Homo sapiens: one gene and its partner. The protein of the gene in region 2 purifies or fractionates together with the protein of the main gene of each other region. This does not show direct contact. Each region holds a gene or a part of one and is shown on either strand. Other genes may lie near its edges.

Region 1 (4,210 bases), on a different chromosome or scaffold from region 2:
CTGTCTGCTCAGTGCAACCTCTGCCTCCTGGGTTCAAGCAATTCTCCTGCCTCAGCCTCCCAAGTAGCTGGGACTGCAGGCATGCACCACCATGCCTGGCTAACTTTTGTATTTTCAGTAGAGATGGAGTTTCACCATGTTGGCCAGGCTGGTCTTGAACTCCTGACCTCAGGTAATCTGCCTGCCTCAGCCTCCCAAAGTGCTAGGATTACAGGTGTGAGCCACTGCACCCAGCCTTTATGTTGTTTTTCTTAGTAATCCTCTATAATTTATAATCTAGATAAGATTATTTGGTGTGCATTAATCTGTATGACTTAATCTGATATTTTCAGCTTTTAAATGGGCATATCTTTGGCAGTTTTCAAACAATTCCTAATTAGTTCACAGATGGCATTTCAGAAATAAATGATTGATCAACATGCAGTAGAGAGGAGTTGGCATCATACTGAAACTGAATAGCTTTAGGATAATCAAATTTTGGAGAGATTTTAGACCATACAGTGCATCATTTGAATTCTACTTGTAATGTCACCTTATGTTTGTATAGGACTTTGTTGGTTACAAAGGTTACAAGTACTTTGTTGTGTATCATTTGGATTAAGCATAGGTCTCGTATATTTAGTTACATAAATCATCTGTGAGGACTGTCAGAAGATAATATTGACAGGTTTCTATTCATTTGGCAGCATCCTCATTCTCTCCTTCCTTATTATTTGGGGTTATAAGTGGTAATAAAAGACTTTTAGATCCTGCAAAATGTCAGACAGCTAATATAATGAAATAATAATTTGGGTCTTTTAATTCCCTATAATGTCCCCTGAGAGACTCAAGATAAAGATTATATGTGTAAGCATAATAGAATAATCTACAGTTTGTTTTGTTTCTTTTCTCTTTGTCATTGGTAGGTACATGGTTTAGATCCAAACACATGGAAAACTGTTGAAATTGTCCATATAGATATTGCAGATAGAAGTCAAGTTGAACCAGCAGTAAGTATTACTCAATGACATTTAATCTGTTCCCTTTTACAGTTAAAAATTATTTTCTACTATCACATTTGGGATTAAGTTAAAAAAATTATTTCCTTTCTTTCTTGTATGGCCTACATTTCTATGCCGAAGTGAGCTTGGAGTGAAGTCTAGTACGTCTGTGCAGCAAAGAGACCAGAGTAAGAGAGAAGGCGATTTGTTTTCTGTGTAGATTTTGGCTTTGTGCAAGTGATCCCTTTAAGAAATCCCAGTATACCTGGGAAATGTAGGTTGTTTTCATTGAAAAACAAAAAACACATTGTTTACAAAATAATTCTCCCTCCAGCTAGGTCCCTTTTACTTTTCAAATGTGATTAAGAAAGCAAAAATTTAATTTGCATACAAGTATTTAGTAACTCAGCTACAGTTGTTATTTGTGGAAAATGGTTGGTGTAGAGTATCTTTTTAAAAATGTTCTTTTAGATTCCAGAAGTAGGTGTAGAGTATTTTAATTTAATAGTTGTTTAGCTTTCTATTTTGAATCCTATTAAGATGTAAATATTTCTACTCCTGGCTTTTGACTTAATAAAAAAATTTCTTTTTCACAAGTAAAGATGCTTATTCCTCATGCCAGATTAAGACTCAAGATAAAGATTATATATGTAAGCATAATAGAATAATCTTAGGCTGGACACAGTGGCTTCCACTTGTAATCCCAACACTTTGGAAGGCCAAGGAGGGAGGATTGCTTGAGCACAGGAGCTTGAGACCAGCCTGGACAACATAGTGAGATCCTGTCTCTAAAAAGAAAAAAACGATTAGCTGGGCATGGTGGCATGTGCCTGTAATTCCAGCTACATGAGGAGGCTTAGACAGGAGGATTACTTGAGTCCAGAAATTTGAGGTTGCAGTGAGCCGTGATCGTACCACTGCACCCCAGCCAGGGTGACAGAGCGAGATCCTAGCTCAAAAAAAAAAAAAAAAAAAAAAAAAGGCTAGACATGGTGGCTCAAGCCTGTAATCCCAGCACTTTGGGAGGCTGAGGCAGGAAGATCACGAGGTCAGGAGATCGAGACCATCCTGGCTAACATGGTGAAACCCCTTCTCTACTAAAAATACAAAAAATTAGCCGGTATGGTGGTGGGCGCCTATAGTCCCAGCTACTCGGGAGGCTGAGGCAGGAGAGTGGCATGAGCCCGGGAGGCGGAGCTTGCAGTGAGCCGAGATCGCGCCACTGCACTCCAGCCTGGACAACAGAGCGAGACTCCGTCTCAAAAAAAAAAAAAAAGGAAAAAACAGACCCCTGTCTCATCTTGCCAAAGTTTATGAATATTAATGTGGTTCTTACTTTATAGTGTGCTAAGTGCTGCTTTGGTTTTACACAGCATGTGTAAATACAAGCACTGGTCCTCTTCCTCTAATCTAGAGAGCTAAAGCTTTGGAATAAGAGTGGTACCCTTTGTTTTGTCGTGGTCAAGCACGGTATGTTCAGTAGGCGTCCCTTTCCATTTCTATTTTTGGTGCTTATTCCCTGAACTTGAGCAGTGTTGTAAGTGAAACAGAAATAAGTCAAACGCTAAATGTCTGGTTTTGCTGTTGAAATTTAAAGGTAAACTTGCCTGAACAAAGGTCCCCGACCTTTTCTCAGATGTCACTGGGGTTGAGACTGCCAGCAGTGACCCAGTGCCAGGCTGGGCCAACTCTGCTAGGGCCCCCTTCCTGCTTAGAAGTGTGAGCACTGATAAGGGACTTTTGTTCTAGAAGTTCTTAAATTTTAGTTTTGCTGTGATTCGAAGTTGTTTCAATTTTAGGGATATTTCCACCTTTGACATTATATAGGGAGTTTTTCAATCTGTAGAAATGAAATGATATATCTGTTATGCCCTTTTATTTCTCTTGGTATTGTTTACAGCTAAGATTTACTATATGTGAAAGAATGATGGGAAGAGAAGTAATTGGGAGTAATGAGTGAGTTAGTTAATGACTAGGTCAGGACAGCTTACAAGCCTGGAGCTGCCCATCACTAAAATACCAAGCAGCAGTATGCCACACCAGGATCGGGTGCCCTGGGGAAGGCATTCCCATTATGTTGTTGGTGTTTGAAAATGCTATAATGACCAAACAAAATGGCTCGACTGACTCAGACTTATGGTCCATAGGTTTGCAGTCTACGTTGTTCACCAGCAGAGTACAAGATACCTTTGGTTTTGCTGGAGGCATAAAAATTCTTTGTTCCTGTCCTCAGGCGAAAATGGGCAGTGTTTACAGGCATGAATGCTGGTGGAAAGAGCAGAGTAAGGGCAGATTGCACAAGAACCGTGGAGGCCCTGGTTCCCATCACCTCCACCTCAGCACAGACTTCAGAGAGGAGAGGAGGCACTGGATGCATGACAGCAGCACTTGAGATAGGTGCTCCAGGTGGAAGGCACTGCACATGCAAAGGCTGAGTAGGTAGTTCTCTGTGTGAAAATGGTGATGTTTGGGGTGGATAGCTAGTGAAAAAGACTGGATTGAGCCCAAGTGAGGAGGATCTGTGTTGTGAGGTATGGAGCTTTGACTAAAAACATACATTCTAAAACTAGGTGGGCTTCAGATTTCCATTCTGAGGCTCTGCCACCTACTGGCTATTTAATCTTGGACAAGTTGGTTAGCCTCTCTTTGCCTGTATTATCTTGTGTAAAATGAGAGTAATTATAAGATTAAATGTGAGCACTTAAGAGTATATTAGTCTGTTTCATACTGCTGTAAAGATACTACCCATGACTGGGTAATTTATAATGGAAAGAGGTTTAATTCACTCACAGTTCTGCATGGCTGGGGAGGCCTTGGGAAACTTACAGTCATGGTGGAAGGGGAATCAGGCACGTTTTACATGGCGGCAGGAGAGAGAGGAGGAGGAAGGAGGAACTCCTAAACAGATCTTGTGAGAACTCACTCACCGTCACCAGAACAACATGGGGGAAGCTGCCCCCATGGTCCAGTCACCTCCCTTCCTTGACACATGGGGATCACAGGTCCCTCCCTTGACATGTGTTAATTACAATTTGAGATGAGATTTGGGTGGTAACACAGAGCCAGATCTTATCATACAGCCAGTGTGTAGTTCAGTAAATGCTAGCTGTAATTATCATTATTATTAGCTCCAGTTGTACAAGAGTTCCAAGAGTCTGTGTTCACACCAAGCATTGTCTGGGGACTAAACACAACCTGCGTATATGTGGCTTTTTGATGTTCATAGCTCC
Region 2 (3,933 bases):
GGAGAATTGCTTGAACGCGGGAGGCGGAGTTTGCAGTGAGCCGAGATCGCGCCACTGCACTCTAGCCTGGGCGACAAAGCAAGACTCTGTCTCAAAATAAATAAATAAATAAAATACACATAAATTCTGGAAAGCAGAACTCTCCACCTCACAATCTAATTCAAGTACATTTAATATATAAAATGTGTATGTGTGTGTATATATATATGAAATGTACTCAAGTTAAATTGTGAGGTGGAGAGTTCTACTTTCCAAAAATATATATATAAAAAACCTCAAAATTTATATATATATATATATATAAAACCTCAAACTCCTGGGCTCAAGAGATCCTCCTGCCTCAGCCTCCTGAGTAGCTAGGACTCCAGGCATGTGCCATCACACCAGGCTAATTTTTGTTTATTTGTTGTAAATATGGGGGTCTTGCTATGTAGACCAAGCTGATCTCCAACACCTGAGCTCAGGTGATCCTTGCGCCTTGGCCTCTCTAAGTGCTAGAATCACAGGCGTGAGCCACCATCCCATGCCAACTAAAGTACATTTCTACACTGTTTCAAAAGTTCATCCTCATACAATGCCGAAATCTTCTCCTTTTAATTTCTGCCCATAGGTATAGTTTTAATGACAAATGAACTATTAAGTCATTAATGACTTAATGAACTATTAAGTCATTAAATGAGTAATTTAGTTTCTCTAAGATAAATTTCATTCCATGCTAAAAATTTAATATACTTCTATTACTCTACAAGTACAAAGTGTGAAGGCTTTTCACAATATCGTATAAGATATTCCTGCCTAGTTCACAAGTGTATCAGCAAAAGCCTTAAATTTTAAAGAGAAATCAAATATCAGTCCTTACCACTTAAAAACTATGTGAGATAAAGAGTTAACTCCTGAATAGGAAATAAAGAATTCCAAATGCTTACCTTCTAGCTCTTGGTTGTAAAATTCATATCTAAATTCCTAATAAAATACATTCTTATCTTGATACAACTCCAACCTTTCATTTTTTTAATACCATCCCTTTTTCTCAAGAATTGGCAAGTGGGAAGAAGAGGTTTCCACCGCAATTTATTGTTCATTATTTTTACATCTTCTTCGTGAAGACAATGCATGTATTTAAAACATCCTCAAACATTTAAAAGACATTATCGGGCATTACCACTTTAAATAACTGACACTGTACTAGCAAACTTATTAGTATAAACATCACTGAAATTCTTTCCTCTTACTTTTTTTTAAATAACACTGATGAACTAGTGGGAGCAATTTTCCTTCTTTGTGAAGCCTATGAGTGTCAGTTGCACCTCCAATAAAAGTACCATTGACAAATATTCTTGGAACCTGTTGGACAAACAAAAGAAGAATTAGGCTTTACTCTAGTATCAGAACTAAGATCATTTCACATAATAACGAGACATTTGAACTCTGGGTACTTTTATGAGCCTGGCACCACAAAGCTCTTTCACAAATTAAATCTTAAAATCTTTACCCTTTAAGGTAGGTATTATTTTTAGCCCTGTTTTGGAGGAAAATGAGGCACAGGAACTTGCACAAAATCACAATGATGGTACATGACAGACTGGGATTCAAATCCAAACAATCTGATTCTAAAACCTTTCTTCCTGATTACTAAAGCTTTAAATAAACTAAAGCAGATAAACAGTAATATTTAGTTATTTCTTACATTTGTTTACTGAAGGGAAAGAGTGCACTATAAACTTTCAATAAACTTGAAAGTGGCAACACTGTACATTTTTCTGATTATGCATATTATGGAAAAATCCAAATTTCAAGAATCTAAAAACATGGAGCACTAAAGCACTCCTATTAGAAAAGTAATTGAAGACCAACCCCTGTATTGCCCAGGTAAAGGGAGGAAGAATACTTTCATCTTGCCAAGAGCTCCAAGAGGAACTCAAAGATCCATAGACAAGCACTCATAATAACACTACTCATCAACCCCAGTCAAAACACACACACAGAATAAAAATAAAATAAATCAACTCTGCTGTTTCCTATTCTAAGAATCTGGTTCCTAGATCTGCAGCTGCTTTATCTATCCTCAGAGAATGTCTGGCTCATTTTCCTAACACAAGGTTCTAGGCTCTGGGTGATCTAGTTTACAACCTATTAAAGAGGAACAGCACCACAGAGGATATACTCACAGTTCTTTCACCAGTCATTTTGTAAAGAGCATCTTGGAACTGGTTTCCATATTCAAGCAGGTCCAGTTCCACCACTTTATAGTTAACATTCATGTCATGGAAAAGCTTTTTTGCCATTGTACAGTAAGAACAGGATGTTTTTGAGAAAATCACCACACAATTATCAGAAATTGTTTCCTGAAATAAAACCACAAAAAATCATTTTAATTCTAGACATTACCATTTGGAAATAAATTAAGATATAATGGAAAGGGTATGGATTTTGGTCTCTCATGATTCTGGGCTCAAACTAAGCATCATCTATTTTTTCTCATCTGCAGATTGAGGATATTTTTCATTTCAAAGCAATGTTATTAGAAAAAAGATATAACAAAAAGTGCCTGGCATAGAGCAATAACAATAAATAATAATTGTAGCCAATTCATATACAGCAACCATTTCTGTGTGCCAGGTACTATTCTCAACAATTTATCTTCACTGTGTTATTTAAACCTCACTACAATCCTGAGGTAGGTCCTATTATTGTCCCCACTTCACAGTTGAGGAAAGTGAGGTGCAGAGGAAGATCAACAATTTGTTCATGGTTCTCAGCTAATAGGTGGAAGAGCTGGGATTAGACCCAGGCAAATCTGGCTCTACAGTCCAGATATTTAATCTCCATTATACTCCTTTTTCAGCCGGGTACAGTGGCTCATACCTGTAATCCCAGCACTGTGGGAGGCTGAAGCAGGCAGATCACTTGAGGTAAGGAGTTCGAGACCAGCCTGGCCAAAATGGTGAAACTCCATCTCTACTAAAAACACAAAAGTTGCCAGGCATGGTGGCACATCCCTGTAATCCCAGCTACTCAGAAGGCTGAGGCAGGAGAATCACTTGAACCAGGGAGGTGGTTCCAGTGATTCTCCAGCCTGAGGAACACAGTAAGTGGACTCTGTCTCAAAACAAACAAACAAACAAACAAAAAAACCAAAACATTGTACATTTCTTTTTTTTGAGACAAAGTCTCACTGTGTCCCCCAGGCTGGAGTGCAGTGGTGGGATCTCAGCAACCTGCGCCTCCCAGGTTCAAGCGATTCTCATGCCTCAGCCTCCCGAGTAGTTAGGATTATAGGCACCTGCCACCACGGCCAGTTAATTTTTGTTTTTTAGTAGAGACGGGGTTTCACCATGTTGGCCAGGCTCGTCTCAAACTCCTGACCTCAGGTGATCCACCCGCCTCAGCCTCCCAAAGTGCTGGGATTACAGGTGTGAGCCACCGCGCCCAGCCCCAAAACATTATACTTCTTTTCAAATATTCAGTAGGTATTCAGGAGTTAACTCCTTACCTTCTATTCTATAACTTTCAATGGTAAGGAATGGTATATGATTTCTTCTTAAAATGTAAGGCTTACCCCTCTACTTCTATCCTTTCCTATATACCTTTATAGTACAAAAGCTGTCATTACTCTCTTGATAAGGTATTCTCATACTCTTAATTCAGGAAAAGCTACTTCCAGAAATGCTGATTCAATGAGTTTGAGGTAGAAGTTGAAAACTGTATGTTTAAAAAACCTCTCCATATAATGATGATATCAGCCTGGTTTGAAAACTACCTTCCAGGCCTTTACCACAATGGCTATGAGATTCTGCTATGCATCCACGCAGCCTATGAAGTTTTTCTTTTTGTTTTTTGTTTCTAAACATATGAATGCCTGGGACCTTCAAAAGATTTTGAATGGATAGATTTAGCACCCAGACATTTGTCTAGGTTTTTTTTTGTTTTGTT

Evidence for each region. Proteins that work in one complex are often made in the same cells at the same time.
Region 1: the proteins of GLRX2 (region 2) and PITPNB fractionate together in Homo sapiens (co-fractionation; one large-scale study listed by BioGRID). This does not show direct contact.

What each region holds. Positions count from the first base shown.
Region 1 is NC_000022.11:27,891,334-27,895,543, reverse strand, and holds part of PITPNB (phosphatidylinositol transfer protein beta isoform), read left to right. Parts: intron 1-905; coding exon 906-989; intron 990-3,213; coding exon of another isoform or gene 3,214-3,372; exon of another isoform or gene 3,373-3,415; intron 3,416-4,210. UniProt on the Homo sapiens protein: Catalyzes the transfer of phosphatidylinositol and phosphatidylcholine between membranes. Also catalyzes the transfer of sphingomyelin.
Region 2 is NC_000001.11:193,095,416-193,099,348, forward strand, and holds the end of GLRX2 (glutaredoxin 2 isoform 2 precursor), read right to left. Parts: intron 2,346-3,933; coding exon 2,169-2,345; intron 1,345-2,168; coding exon 1,210-1,344; 3' UTR 1,055-1,209; downstream 1-1,054. UniProt on the Homo sapiens protein: Glutathione-dependent oxidoreductase that facilitates the maintenance of mitochondrial redox homeostasis upon induction of apoptosis by oxidative stress. Involved in response to hydrogen peroxide and regulation of apoptosis caused by oxidative stress.